2 linked regions of the Homo sapiens genome follow. Changing the gene in region 1 together with any one later gene gives a genetic interaction. Each region holds a gene or a part of one and is shown on either strand. Other genes may lie near its edges.

Region 1 (7,564 bases):
CTTGAATATGTCACTTATTCACTTCTGGTAGTCAAAGGCTCCCAGTTCCTGTCCTCAGCAGCACAGCTCCTTCCATCCTGCTGCTAAAACAGTTGACAGTGAGATTTACCAGTTCACATCAGGGTGAATTAGGTTAATACCTTCTTAAAACTCAGGCTTAGGGAAGGAAGTGATATGTATTAACAGATCAAAGCCTGAATATTTCTCTATAAAATGTTTATTCTGTAGTTTTTTGTAGTAATTTTAGTTTTCCATTACTTTTACGATAAAATCCAAACCCCATAGTAATGACACAGAACGAAGGCCATACCTTATATTTGAAGTGCTCTTTTTTCTTTTTTCACTACTTTTCTTCTTAGCTACACCTCTAGATCTCGTCCGCTCAAGGGTTACCTGTTTAAAGTGGAGTTTTCACCTCCACAGGCTGAATTAGATATTATTTCTCTGTACTCGAATAGCATTCACCACTGTTAACAGCACTTACCAGTGCTGAAACATAATTGATTTCTTGCCTTCTTGACTAAACTGACCTCTATGCAACTCAAAGAACACATCTCAATCATCTCTGTACTCTCTACCTATCAGAGTTTAGTGCACCGTAGACACTCAGTAAATAAACAACTAAATATTGAATTTGTGATGTTACTGAAAACTCCTTTAATGAAAAGCATTTAACACCATAGGGAAGACTGAACACCAGGAAAATTTACTTGCATGACTAATTATCGTGTTCTCTTTTTAAACAATAATTGCTTGTTTTTCTTCCCAAGTATTTATGCGCTGCCAGTTGAGCCGATTACAGAAAGGGCATGCCACAGATGAATGGTTTCTGCTCAGCTCCCATATACCATTAAAAGGTATTGAACCAGGGTCCCTGCGTGTTCGAGCACGATACTCTATGGAAAAAATCATGCCAGAAGAAGAGTACAGTGAATTTAAAGAGGTATTAAATTATTTATCAGTCTTGTTTTTGTTGGAATTAACAGAAACATTTAACATTTAATAAAAGATCCATTAAGGTAAACATAGTAATTCATAGCTTAGTAGCACAATGATGCCAGAGATTTTAAACCTTGTTTTATACTGTAATTTTGGTAGAAATAAGTAGACTACGAATTCATTCTATTTTAAATAAATTTATTCAATGGGACATCATTTTAAATATAAGAACTTGTGAAAGAACATATTTCTTGTTAGTCTCATGGAGCATGCTTATAATGCTACGTACTTTAAACAATCTTTTAAAATGTCATTTTAGCTTATACTGCAAAAGGAACTTCATGTAGTCTATGCTTTATCACATGTATGTGGACAAGACCGAACACTACTGGCCAGCATCCTACTGAGGATTTTTCTTCACGAAAAGCTTGAATCGTTGTTGTTATGCACACTAAATGACAGAGAAATAAGCATGGAAGGTATGGTATGGCCATGTTAGTGTGATACAAGAAACTGGGTTTAGATTTTATATCAAGGATATATGGACTCTATCTCTGAATATACTAAATTGTTAAATTATATTGCAAAATAAGTTATTCTGTTTTCCCTCCTTAAAAATTGCAGTTGGATGTCAGTTCTGATTATGTTGGTTACTATGGGAAGCTGATATTTCTAATGTAGGTTTTGGCAGATAAGTACTAGAAGCCACAAGAAGGTGGTATCTGTGTCTACATCAATGGCTTGACTGTTTGGCATATTTATCTGTATTCTCTTGTTTTTTATTTTCTTTTGAGATGGCATCTCAGTCGCCCAGGCTGCAGTGCAGTGGCGCAGTCTCGGCTCACTGCAACCTCTACCTCTCAGGTTCAAGCGATTCTCCTGCCTCAGCCTCCTAAGTAGCTGGGACTACAGGCATATGCCACCACACCCAGCTAATTTTTTATTTTATTTTTTTAGTAGAGACGGGTTTTCACCATGTTGGCCAGGCTGGTCTTGAACTCCTGACTTCAGGTGATCCGCCTGCCTCAAGCCTCCCAAAGTGCCGGGGTTACAGGTCTTGTTTAATTTTTACTTCTTCATTACACAGAAGCTGGGTGTCAGCTGCATTTTATTTCTAACTTTTATAGATAGGTAGTTCCCAAGCTGCTGGACACAGTGCTTTTAATGGCTTACAAAATAATCCACCCTCCCCCTGGCCCACACACACCACCAAGCACTTTGATTCATTAACAGTTCTTGCTTCTAGGTTCCCCAAATAAATAGTAAAGTTTAGAACTATTTTCCTCCTCATCACAAAATATAGATTTGTCAAGGAATAGATAAAATGGTGGTCCTTATTTTACACTTGAGTTTATCTTTTCTGACAGCATTTGTATTTCATTAAAATTTTACTGAAACTCAGTAGACATATTTTAAGCTAATAAATTAATCTATACTGGGATTTTGTGTTATATCCTTAATTGTAAATAAACCCTAAAATTTCAAAGCATGGGGTCAATGGGCAGCAAAGCTGATTTATGGTCCTAATTTTATCATTAGCTGTCTAATTGATCTTAAGTCATATAACAATTCTGAGTCTTCATTTTTCCATATGAACATGGCAGTGTTAATCCCTTCTGTTCATGATCTAATGAGGTAATACATATGAAAGTCTTACAGAGTTAAGTCTGTAGAAGTATAGGATGTCATTGTAATTAGTACTTTCAACGCTGCACGCAAAAAGCACATTTAAGTGGCTATTCCTGTTGAGGTAAAATGAATTCACTTAATTTCCAATTTGGTCACATTAGGTCAGTCCTTTACAAATAATCTTCTAATGTAAATATTTGTGTAGATGAAGCCACTACCCTATTTCGAGCCACAACACTTGCAAGCACCTTGATGGAGCAGTATATGAAAGCCACTGCTACACAGTTTGTTCATCATGCTTTGAAAGACTCTATTTTAAAGATAATGGAAAGCAAGCAGTCTTGTGAGGTAAGAATTTAATGTTTTAATAAGTATTTTTGCAAAGAACATATTTTAATAGGTAATAATTTGTAGCCAATTACATTTTAAGGAAAATATATTAAATTTCTAAAATTATTCCTCATAGCAGTTACACCTGTCTGTAATACATTTATAAAAATGTTCTGCAAAATGGACTTCTTAAAAAAGATGTACTTTATTTTGGGATTAAAAACCATCAAGTTGCACCAGAAATTCATGAAAATACTTTGTCATTTCCTCTACTGTACTAATAATCTATATACTACTTACAGAAAGCGTGCATAAGATAAATTGAAGGTTTTGTTAGTGACTCATTATATAACCTATGTAGCACTTCATTACATCTTGGTTTGTTCTTGAAGGTTTTTTTGCGAGGGGAGAATTATGAGATAACCTCAACTAAAACAAAAAAATCTTTTTAGGATTATTAAAGTTTCAGTATAAATTCATAATACACTATTAAGACAGTAAGTGGAATCTCACACACATATTCTCTCATTTTAATGGTAAAGCAACTACAAAGAAATAATATATATTAGATCTGATATAAAAATCAGTTTAAGGAATTGTTTTTGACAATGGACACTGGGACCTAGCAAATGTTAATCCTGCACGAAGGTGTCGATTCATACTAATAACTTGAAGGGAAGAAATTAGTGATTTAATGTTGGAAATGTGGGGTAATGCCATAGTTGGCCTAACATAAGGATGACACAGAAGTGCAGCAGGTAGGTAGGGAGTCTCTGGACTTTAGAGATAGGCTACGGAATTCCGACTTCCATAGATAAATGTACTCTGCTGACACTAGATCAGAAGGGTTACAGGAAAAGTTCTGAGAAAGGTTTGTGATTCTGCCTAAGGCATTTGATATTTTTATTAGCCATTAAATAAGCCTCATTCAGAAAAGCTTTTAATCAGCTTTTTTTCCCCTCAAATAAATAGAATTGACTAAGCACTGTTTGCTTTTCAGTTGGCTAATTGGGAATAAATGGTAACAGACCTACCAGGAGGAGTTCCATAGAGAAAACTACTTAAAAACTCCCATTATACAAAGAAAAAAGATCAATACACACAGAGATACCGAAAAATAGACAACCTCGAAAACTATAACTACTTGTTTTCCTCTATTCATTTGCATTTGTCATTGCCAACATGCATTTATATTGATTTATTCCTTCTTTTAGTTAAGTCCATCAAAGTTAGAAAAAAATGAAGATGTGAACACTAATTTAACACACCTATTGAACATACTTTCAGAGCTTGTGGAGAAAATATTCATGGCTTCAGAAATACTTCCACCGTAAGTGGTGAAATTTTCATTTGACAAGAAATTGTGTATCTATGTCTTCAGAAATTTCTATTTCTAAAACGTGAAAGCTTTTCTGTTGTCCTAATATTATTATACTCTGAAAAAGTCATGGTTAATCTTTATGAGATGAATTGTATTTAAAGAAAATAGCTGTCTTAATAAAACCACCCATTATTTTCGTACAAGCCAATATGTCTGGTTTGTACTGTAGTAGCTTGGGGAGTGAATAGAGGTTTATAGTTTCAGATTTGAGATTGTAAAAGATATCTTGTCTATCCATTTAGTCTATACTTGATAGACTAATCACTCTGTTAATATGCTTGTCGGCCTCCAGTATTAGTGAACTCACTTGTTCAGGTAGAAGTTAACTTAAGTCTAAATCTTGCTCCCCAGAATTTGCAGCTGGTTGGTTCTCTATATCTGAAAGTAAATGTCAGGAAGTTGACTGAATAAATTGATGATAAACTTAGTGGATAAAGTTTTCCTTACCCCTTGCTAAATGCCTCATTACCTGTGGCAAAATACTTTTTTGGGTAAAAGGCCAGTTTTATTGAACTGTGGTATATTTGGGTAAATTAAGCTTTTGGCTGCTAGGAGATCAGTGTTTTCACTTGCTTTCTGTGTTGAGATGATTGTGTTATTTTGGCAGGACATTGAGATATATTTATGGGTGTTTACAGAAATCTGTTCAGCATAAGTGGCCTACAAATACCACCATGAGAACAAGAGTTGTTAGGTAAGGCTCATCAATTGATTTGTTAAATCACATACTAATAGGTGGATAATTGTGAAAAATTGAGGAATAACAATATACAATTCAATGCTTTTTTCTTTGGCTTTTATGTCAAAGCCCTGTTGCATATTTTCTAAGTCCAGATGGCTCCTAAACTGAAAGTTACTGTGAGATTTAGCTGCCGTTTGCATTTTCTAAAAACATGAACATTCATTTATAGTCAAGTATTGGGGATTTTTAAACCCTTACAAGATGAGGCTAAAAGTTATATAACAAAATCTGTAGCTAACTTCATATAGTATTCTTCATACATACACACACATTGATTGGCAGTGAGAGAGAAGGGCAGTAATTGACCGATTTAGATATTAATTGGTTTGTTACAATCTGTGACTCTGAGCTAATCAGAACCAGAACATGTAGTTCTGAAGCTGTGTTTCAGTCTGCTCATTGTACCATAATTAGGAAGAACTGCTTTGGCAAATCATGGAATTTGGGAGCTTATATAAAGGGACTTCATTATCATTATTCTATAGGAAGAACTGCTTTGGCAAATCATGGAATTTGGGAGCTTACGTAAGGTTACTTCATTATCATTATTCTAACTTATTTTTCCAATGAAGAAGCAGATCTGTCTGGAGAGGTTAAGTTGAACTAAGGTTTTATAGAAAGCTGGTGGCTAAGGCAGAACTAAAGGTAACTTTCTAAGACCCAATCTGATATCCTTGAGTCTTATTGTAGGCTTTTGCTTTTGTTAAGCATACTCCAACTAATACCCCAACTAATTCCAGGCAAATGGAAGTTTAATGCGAAAGCGTCATGGAATACAGCAGTTTTCTAATAATATAATTTGTTATTTAGAATATACACTGTCATGTCATGCTATATGTAAAATAATTAGGCAACCATTAACACCATTATTACACAGTTTGTTTTGAAAATGTGTTAATCCTGCCTCCAACCTAAATTTTGTCAAGGGGCTTCTATTTCTTTTTTTGGGGGGCAGGTAATATTTCTCTTGGTTATGATATGACATAATATTTAAGAACTACAGATTCTGTTTTTCTTGGCATTAGTGGTGATTGGGAGGAATAGAAAAGAATTACAAGCATAATATTCCAGCACAGTTACGTGTGAGATGTAAATTAAAACTGTTCTATAAATTTGTAAGTTTCAAACAAGTATAACTGTTAAGCAAACACAGCAGGAAATTGTAAACTGTTTCGTGCAAGAGGGTGTTTTAGGGCATTTTTGCCAAGGTTAGGTTTCAGGCTCATAGACCTACTATGTATAATTATCACAATATTTTCAAGTAAAGTTTACAAGATTCTTTAAATTTGGGAAGTCCAAAATTAAAGACTTAATTGTTATTTTTTTGAGACAGGGTCTTGCTCTGTTGCCCATGCTGGAGTGCAGTGGTGTGATTTCGGCTTACTGCAACCCCCGCCTCCCAGGTTCAAGTGAGATTCTTGTGCTTCATCCACCCAAGTAGCTGGATTACAGGCATGCACCACCATACCTGGCTATTTTTGTATTTTTAGTAGAGATGGGGTTAGACCATGTTGGCCAGGCTGGTCTTGAACTCCTGGCCTCAGGTGGTACACCCACCTCGGCCTCCCAAAGTGTTGGATTACAGGCATGAGCCACCATGCCCAGCCAATATATTAGAATTTCTATAAATGCTGTTTGAGAAGTAACATCTTTACTTTCTAAGAGTCCAAAAATTAGCAAACAGGTACATGTTCAAAGGTAAATGCTAAGAAATTGGGTAATCCACTCTAACAGAGAACAGAGATTGTATCTATTAATCTATAGAAGGAATTGCGTAACTCATTATTTTGGGAATAATGCTTGTCTTTACATGGATTATGTCTATCAATCTGTAGAAGGAATTGCATAATTCATTATTTTAGGAATAATGCTTGTCTTTACATGGGGCAAGTAAGAGGTTAATTATTAGTGTGGATTCTTCTTAAAAGGAAATTAGAAATTATCTACATGACAACATATCCTCCCTACCAGTGACTAAAGGAGGCAGAATAGGAGTATCTATGCAAGCTTTTAACACTGACATTGTCCCAAAGTAAAATTAGCAGATAAAATCATATATGACAGCTGTTAGTATAATTTTTGCTTTTGCTATTGTTTTATAATTTGACAACTTTTTAAAACTTTAGAATTCCTAATGTCTTGTCTTAAAAGTTTTTCAGGCTGGGCATGGTGGCTCAAGCCTGTAATCTCAACATGTTTAGACCAAGACAGGAGGATTGCTTGAGGCCAGGAATTTGAAATTGTCCTGGGCACCGTAGCGAGACTCTGCTTTCTACAAAAATAATTAAAAAAAAAAAAAAATTGCCAGGTATGGTGATGTGCACCTGTAGTCCTAACTACTCTAAGCCTGAGGCAAGAGAATTGTTTGATCCCAGGGGTTCAAGGTTGCAGTGAGCTGTGATTGTGGGCCACTGCACTCCAGCCTGGGTGACAGAACAAAACCCTATCTCAAAGAAAACAAAGAAAAAAGGAAAAAAGAAAACCTTTCCAGTGTTCTATTATAGACATTTTCATTGATCAATAAGTCACTTTTTCTCTAGTGC
Region 2 (7,564 bases), on another chromosome or scaffold:
GTCACAACTTCCCTTTGGTGCCATTTACCCTGCTATAACATGTCTGTTTATTCAGAGTCAGTTTTAAGAAAGGAAGATAGGCCGGGTGCGGTGGCTCATGCCTGTAATCCAGGACTTTGGGAGGCCGAGGCAGGCGGATCACGAGGTCAGGAGATCGAGACCATCCTGGCTAACATGGTGAAACTCCGTCTCTCTAAAAATACAAAAAATTAGGCGGGTGTGGCAGCGTGCGCCTGTAGTCCCAGCTACTCGGGAGGCTGAGGCAGGAGAATGGCGTGAACCCGGGAGGTGGAGCTTGCAGTGAGCCAAGATCGCGCCACTGCACTCCAGCCTGGGCGACAGAGCAAGACTCCGTCTCAAAAAAACAAACAAACAAAAAAGGAAGATATTGGCCAGGCGTGGTGGCTCATGCCTGTAATCCCAGCACTTTGGGAGGCTGAGGCGGGCGGAACACGAGGTCAGGAGATTGAGACCATCCTGGCCAACATGGTGAAACCCTGTCTCTACTAAAAATACAAAAATTAGCCAGGCCTGGTGGCGCGCACCTGTAGTCCCAGCTACTCGGGAGGCTGAGGCAGTAGAATCACTTGAACCCAGGAGGTGGAGGTTGCAGTGAGCTGAGATCGTGCCATTACACTCCAGCCTGGGTGACAGAGCGAGACTCTGTCTCAAAAAAAAAAAAAAAAAAAAAGGAAGCTATTTGAGCTAGCATCAAATAATTAGTGCACAGTACACATGGAAGAACTATCCTTTTAATCAAACGGGCATTTTTATTACTATTTGGCTTTGTTCTGGTCTTAACCTTTCCCTCAATTGTGAATCGCTAATGACAACTTTTATACAGATGTCATGATTTCCATGGTTTAAACAAATGTAAAATTAGTTTAAAATGCCAGAATGAAATGGATACTCTCACAAATTTGCTCATTGCTATACTAAAGTGCCTTGATAAAGAATTTTACAATAAAATCCTGTTAATAAGACTGCTGATTCAGAGATGACCATAATTCACACGTGATCGAGACTTAAAGCTTATTGTTTTACTTGTGAAAAAAGTTTAAGCAGAATGTTTAACTTTTAAAAACAAATAAATGATATTGAAAGCAACGGTTTACATTAACTTACGTGCTAATGTCTCTCATTCAGCTTTAGCAGGTCCTCAAGGACCTTTCTTAATACTTTTTTGGTTAACAAAAGTATAAATGGAAACTTGAAGAGAACCTAAGAAGAGAAATGAAAATGATTGAGGGAATATAGACCCCAAAACACACAAACACACACACACAAGCACGTTTAAGATAGGGGTTGAAAAGACATACTGAGGAGGAATTTGAACTTTATTTTTGTTTTCACCTTTGAGACAGGGTCTCACTATGTTGCCCAGGCTAGAGTGCAGTCATAGCTTGCTGCAGCCTCAAACTCCCAGGCTCACATGATCCTCCTGCCTCGGCGTCTCAAGTGGCTACAGGCACACACCACTATGCTGGCTATTTTTTTTTTCTTTTTTGTTTTTGTAGAGACAAGGGTCGCCCTTTGTTGACAGGGGTGGTTTTTGAACTCCTGGGCTCAAGGGGTCCTCCTGCCTTGGCCTCCCATTGTTGGGATTACAGGCGTGAGCCACCTTGCCAAGCCACGTTTATTTTTAAAAACAGGATAAATATATTCTTGTCCAGCCAATCCCAGAATCAAGTACAGTAGCTTGAAATAGATGAAATAATTTTAGAATGTATTGTTTTATTTATAGAGCTGATAGATAAATGAAACAGTATAAAGGGTAAATATTTGCTGTTTAACAGACAACCTCAAAACTTAGCTTAAAAAAAACAATTATTTTTCCCCTCAAATCTGATGGTTTTTCTGCTTCACTTGGTATTGGCTGAGGTGTGGGAAAGACCTTCACTTCTCCTCTATATGGGCCTTTCTCTACCTGGCTGCTTGGATTTCCTTAAAGTGTGGTGGCAAGGTTCTAAGAAGGGACATTCCAGGAGACAGGAGGTAGAGACTGCCAGTCTTCTAAATCCTAGATTTGGAAGTCCAAGAATGTCACTGTGGGTCAAAGCCAGTCAAGGCCAACTACAGAGGGAGGAGAAATAATGTCTACCTATTGATAGGAAGGGTGGCGTGCATAAACAAGGAAGGGGGAATTGCTGGGGGCCACCTTTTGAGACTTGCTACCGTAGGTGCTATGCTAGTTGGATGTTAAGGCTAAAAATAAAAATGGTATCGGCCAAGTTTGTGGGTCATAATGCTAGGAATGTTTAGGAGGCATCTCTTTTTTTGAGGTTAACTTCGGAAGGCACTAACATGATCTCCTGCGTGACTTCCCTTAATGATGTCACTGTTGACATAATACTGGGTGAATTAATGTGATTAAGTAAACTTGCTTACTTACTTCAGGAAACAGAGGTATCTAAACAGATTACATTTTAAAATAAATTGTCAGATGTTTCACTGTAATGGAATTTTCTTTACATCAGTGAAATTGATTACCAGGTAGTGGGATGAACATCTGAAACTAGTTCTTAGTTTAAGTTGTCTGAGTTTTTGTGTATACTTTACCTATTCCCAGTTTAAATTGGCTTTCAAACAGTTTGTTTTCTGGGTACTCTTATAGGTGTTGGGGTATGAAATTAGTGGTAATTCTTTTTGCCTATTTTCTTTTTTTTTGTCTGAGATACCCTGAGTCTCGCTCTGTTGCCCAGACTGGAGTGCAGTGGCACAATTTCGGTTCACTGCAACCTCCGCCTCCTGGGTTCAAATGATTCTCCTGCCTCAGCCTCCTAAGTAGCTGGAATTACAGGCGTGTACCACCTTGCCTGGCTAATTTTGTTGTATTTTTTTTTTTTTGAGATGGAGTTTTGGTCTTGTTGCCCAGGCTGGAGTGCAATGGTGCAAACTCAGTTCACTGCAACCTCTGCTTCTGAGGTTCAAGTGATTCTCCTTCCTCAGCCTCCCCTGTAGCTGGGATTACAGGCATGCACCACCACACCCAGCTAATTTTGTATTTTTGGTAGAGACAGGGCTTTTCCATGTTGGTCAGGCTGGTCTCGAACTCCCAACCTCAGGTGATCTGCCCGCCTTGGCCTCCCAAAGTGCTGAGATTACAGGCGTGAGCTGCCGTGTCCGGCCTCTTTTTGCTAATTTTCTAAATTTATGTTTATAGTAGATTTTCATAAATTATCAAAAGTGAATTATTAGATGTGGAGTAAAAATTCAACTTTGAGTAGTTTTAGAAATTATTTATTGCTAAATTAGAAAATAAACTTTCAAAAGAGATCTCTTTTTTTTAAAAAAACTTAATTGAGACAGGGTCTCACTCTGTCACCCAGGCTGGAGTACAGTGGTGCAACCTTGGCTCACTGCAGCCCCTACCTCCTGGGTTCAAGCAATTCTTGTGCCTCAGCCTCCCAGGTAGCTGGGAATACAGGCATGTGCCACCACGCCCAGCTAAATTTTGTGTTTTTAGTAGAGACAGGGTTTCACCGTGTTGCCCGGGCTGGTCTCGAACTCCTGACTTCAAGTGATCCGCCCACCTTGGCCTCCCAAAGTGCTGGGATTACAGGCGTGAGTCACTATGCCTGGCCTAGAGATGGGATCTGCTTTTTTTTTTTTTTTTTTTTTGAGATGGAGTCTTGCTCTGTCACCCAGGCTGGAGTGCAATGGCACGATCTCAACTCACTGCAACCTCCGCTTCCCAGGTTCAGGCAATTCTCCTGTCTCAGCCTCCTAAGTAGCTGGGATTACAGGCACCTGCCATCATCCCTGACTAATTTTTGTATTTTTGTAGACGGGGTTTCACCATGTTGGCCAGGCTATTCTTGAACTCCTGACCTCAGGTGATCCGACCGCCTCGGCCTCCCAAAGTGCTGGGATTATAGGCATTAGCTACCGCGTCTGGCCTCTAGAGATGGGATCTTGCTTGCTCTGTTGCCAGGTTGGCCTTGAACTCAGGCTAGGGTTAAGTGATCTTTGTGCCTCGGCCTCTCCAGTAGCTGGGACTACAGGTGCGTGCCACCACTCGCAGCCTAAAATACTTTTTAAATCTCACCTACTTTCTAGCAGTATTTTATTTTATTTGGGCGCAGCTCTGCCATCAGTAGGCTGAGCTCCCTGCAGCCTCAAACTCCTGGGCTGAAGCAATGCCTCTGCCTCAGCCTCCTGAGTAGCTGGGACTACAGGTTTGTGCCACCACACCTGGCTATATTTTTATTTTTTTGTAGAGATGGGGTCTTGCTGTGTTGCCCAGGCTGGTCTGGAACTCCTGGCCTCAAGTTATTCTCCTGCATCAGCCTTCCAAATTGCTGGGATTACAGGCTTGAGCCACCATGCCCAGCTTTAGCAATTTTTTTTTTTTGAGACGGAGTCTCGCTCTATTGCCCAAGCTGGAGTGCAGTGGTGCGATCTCAGCTCACTGCAACCTCAGCTTCCTGGGTTCAAACAGTTCTCCTGCCTCAGCCTCCCAAATAGCTGGGATTACAGGCACGTGTCACCACACCTGGCTAATTTTTTGTATTTTTAGTAGAGATGGGGTTTCACCGTGTTAGCCAGGATGGTCTCGATCTCCTGACCTTGTGATCCAACCGCCTCAGCCTCCCTAAGTGCTGGGATTACAGGCATGTGCCACCGCACCTGGCCAGCAATATTTTAATATAGCACAGAAGTCCTTTCTAAATGTGTATAGTGAGAATCCATTGAGGATGAAATAGAAAATATTTACCAAAGTTTAACAACTTAGTCAATAAAAATAAAACTTTCTCTTTCCGTAATAAGTCAATCTCAGCATTCTAAAATAGGCAATGGAGGGGGGAAGAAATCTCTATGGGAAGGGTCCACTGGATCTTAACAGTTTCAACTAGTGTTCCACAATATTTCTGCTGTACTTGGGGAGAATTTCTGGATAATTAGAATAGTCTGAGGCTTATTCCTTTTAGTTTCCCATAGCCTGATTGAGATAGAGCTATAAGACCAGCTATAACATTGTACAGAAGACTCAGAGATAAACAAGTGAAAAAGATAACTGAGATTAATGTTGAACTAAGAATATGATTGTTCTCTGAGGCACTACCTGCTAGTTCCTGGATTACCTTTATATGTGGCCAAGGTGGGGATTGGGAAGCAAGGGAGCAAAAGCCCTAGAGCTAAGGGAGAGAGAATTTCTGCCTGCCTAAGATGAACCTTCTGAGTTGGATATTTTTTTTTCTTCCCCCTTGAGACGGAGTCTCACTCTGTCGCCAGACTGGAGTGCAGTGGCATGATCTCAGCTCACTGCAACCCCCGACTCCCTGGTTCAAATGATTTTCCTGCCTCAGCCTCCCGAGTAGCTGGGATTACAGGCACGTACCACCACACCCAGCTCATTTTTGTGTTTTTAGTAGGGATGGGGTTTCACCATGTTGGCCAGGACAGTCTCGATCTCCTCCTTGTGATTCGCCCGCCTTGGCCTCCCAAAGTGCTGGGATTACAGCTGTGAGCCACCGTGCCCGGCCTTGAGTTGGAATTTCTTTCTAAAGTCTTGCTCCTTTCTGTAGTTTGGCTTTCCTTTCAGGGTATCTGATTTTGCCTTCCTGCTCCTAGGCTTGTGACCTGACCTGATGCTGTCAATTACAGGAGAATGCAGAGGTGCAAGAAATTTTTTTTTTTTTGAGATGGAGTTTCGCTCTTGTTGCCCAGGTTGGGGTGCAATGGCACAATCTCGGCTCACAGCAACCTCCGCCTCCCGGGTTCAAGCTATTCTCCTGCCTCAGCCTCCCGAGTAGCTGGGATTACAGGCATGCGGCACCACACCCAGCTAATTTTGTATTTTTAGTAGAGACGGAGTTTTTCCATGTTGGTCAGGCTGGTCTTGAACTCCCGACCTTAGGTGATCCGCCCGCCTCTGCCTCCCAAAGTGCTGGGATTACAGGTGTGAGCCACCACGCCCGGCCAGAAGAAATTTTTTGTGTTTTGTTAATACAGTCAGCCACGAATAGCTAACAGCTAACAGCTGGTCCCTCATATTTGTGGGTTCCATATCTGCTAATTCAACCATTGATTGAAAATATTCAGAAAAAGAGACCACAATAAAAAATAACAATATAACAATAAAAGTGGGAATTAAAAACAATACGTATAACAACTACTTACATAACATTTACATTGCATTATTATATGTAATCTAGAGATGATTTGAAATATATGGGAGGATGTGTGTAGGTTATGTGCCGTTTAAGGCACTATAAGAGACTTTTGAGTATCTGTGGATTTTGGTATCCGATGGGAGGATCCTGGAACCAGTTCCCTGCAGCTATGGAGGTTTGACTATAATTATTTAGCATGTACTATTTGCTGTTCTAAATATACTGTTCTAAGCTCTTTATATATATTATTTCATTTAATCCTCCCAGTAATCCTGTGAGATAGATTCAGTATTATTATTATCCCCATTTCTCATTTAAGGAAAATTATTCCAGAGAGGTTAAGTAACTTGCTCAAAGTCATGCTAGCAGGTATCCTGAGATTAAATCCAGGCAGTCTGACTTGAGAGCCTTACTTACGTGCAGTATACTTCCTCTTTGAAGAGCAGGAAAACTGTGGGATATGGTGGCATGTTTCCTTAATATCTGTTAAGGCACACTTTGGTAAATGCTAAAATAGAAGCACAAAGTGCTATAGAATTTAAGGGAGGGGAAGTTCGTTTTTGTTTTTGTTTTTGTTTTTTCTTTTTTTTGAGATGGAGTCTTACTCTGTCACCCAGGCTGGAGTGCAGTAGCGCAATCTCAGCTCACTGCCACCTCCACCTCCCGGGTTCAAGTGATTCTCCTGCCTCAGCCTCCCGAGTAGCTGGGACTACAGGTGTGCACCACCACGCCCGGCTAAGTTTTGTATTTTTTAGTAGTGCTGGGATTACAGGTGTGAGCCACTGTGCCTGGCCGGGAAGTTCGTTTTAACTGAAGAGCTCTTTAGCAGCTTTGTAGAAGAAAGCTTCATATTAGATCTTGATGAATAGATAGATTTTGACAGATATCTCTCTGAGGTAGGCAGTCAAGCGGTGGCCAGAGTGGAAGAATTACTGTCCAGATTTACATATAGGTTTCCTGATTATTTAAATTACCGATGAAGTGCAGTAAGACTCTACTGTTGTCACAGTATCATTTCAGTTAGCTATTGGCGTTTAGAATCACAAAATACCAGCATCTTACAGTGATAGGTATTTATTCTCTTGAAATTGTGGGTTTGCTGGGTAGTGGATGATCTAAACTTGGCTTACTCAAAGTCAAAAGCCCAAAGTCAAGCAGGGCAGGGAGTAACTTGCACAATACTATAGTGACAGTAATCTACTGCAGTGATCTAGTACAGTTGATTTAGAGAAGAATGGTAAGATGCTTATTATGACAACTATTGTGCTTTCTTCTTTCTGCTCTCTATTGTTGACACTCTCCTGATAGCACTTTTTCATTTTGGTTGCTGAATAATACCTGTTGATTGGATACTCCTAGAATCATAATGTAATACAGCAGATTTCTTCTCTTCATGTTATGTAGAAAAAAAGCATAAAGAAATAATCAGAATCTTGACTATTCCACAG

Evidence for each region.
Region 2: of RASA1 (region 1) and BTRC, changing one suppresses a phenotype caused by changing the other (phenotypic suppression), as found in Homo sapiens cells (one study listed by BioGRID).

Annotation. Positions count from the first base shown.
Region 1 is NC_000005.10:87,375,623-87,383,186, forward strand, and holds part of RASA1 (ras GTPase-activating protein 1), read left to right. Parts: intron 1-770; coding exon 771-943; intron 944-1,258; coding exon 1,259-1,418; intron 1,419-2,773; coding exon 2,774-2,916; intron 2,917-4,112; coding exon 4,113-4,228; intron 4,229-4,886; coding exon 4,887-4,973; intron 4,974-7,564. UniProt on the Homo sapiens protein: Inhibitory regulator of the Ras-cyclic AMP pathway. Stimulates the GTPase of normal but not oncogenic Ras p21; this stimulation may be further increased in the presence of NCK1.
Region 2 is NC_000010.11:101,356,771-101,364,334, forward strand, and holds part of BTRC (F-box/WD repeat-containing protein 1A), read left to right. Parts: intron 1-7,564. UniProt on the Homo sapiens protein: Substrate recognition component of a SCF (SKP1-CUL1-F-box protein) E3 ubiquitin-protein ligase complex which mediates the ubiquitination and subsequent proteasomal degradation of target proteins. Recognizes and binds to phosphorylated target proteins.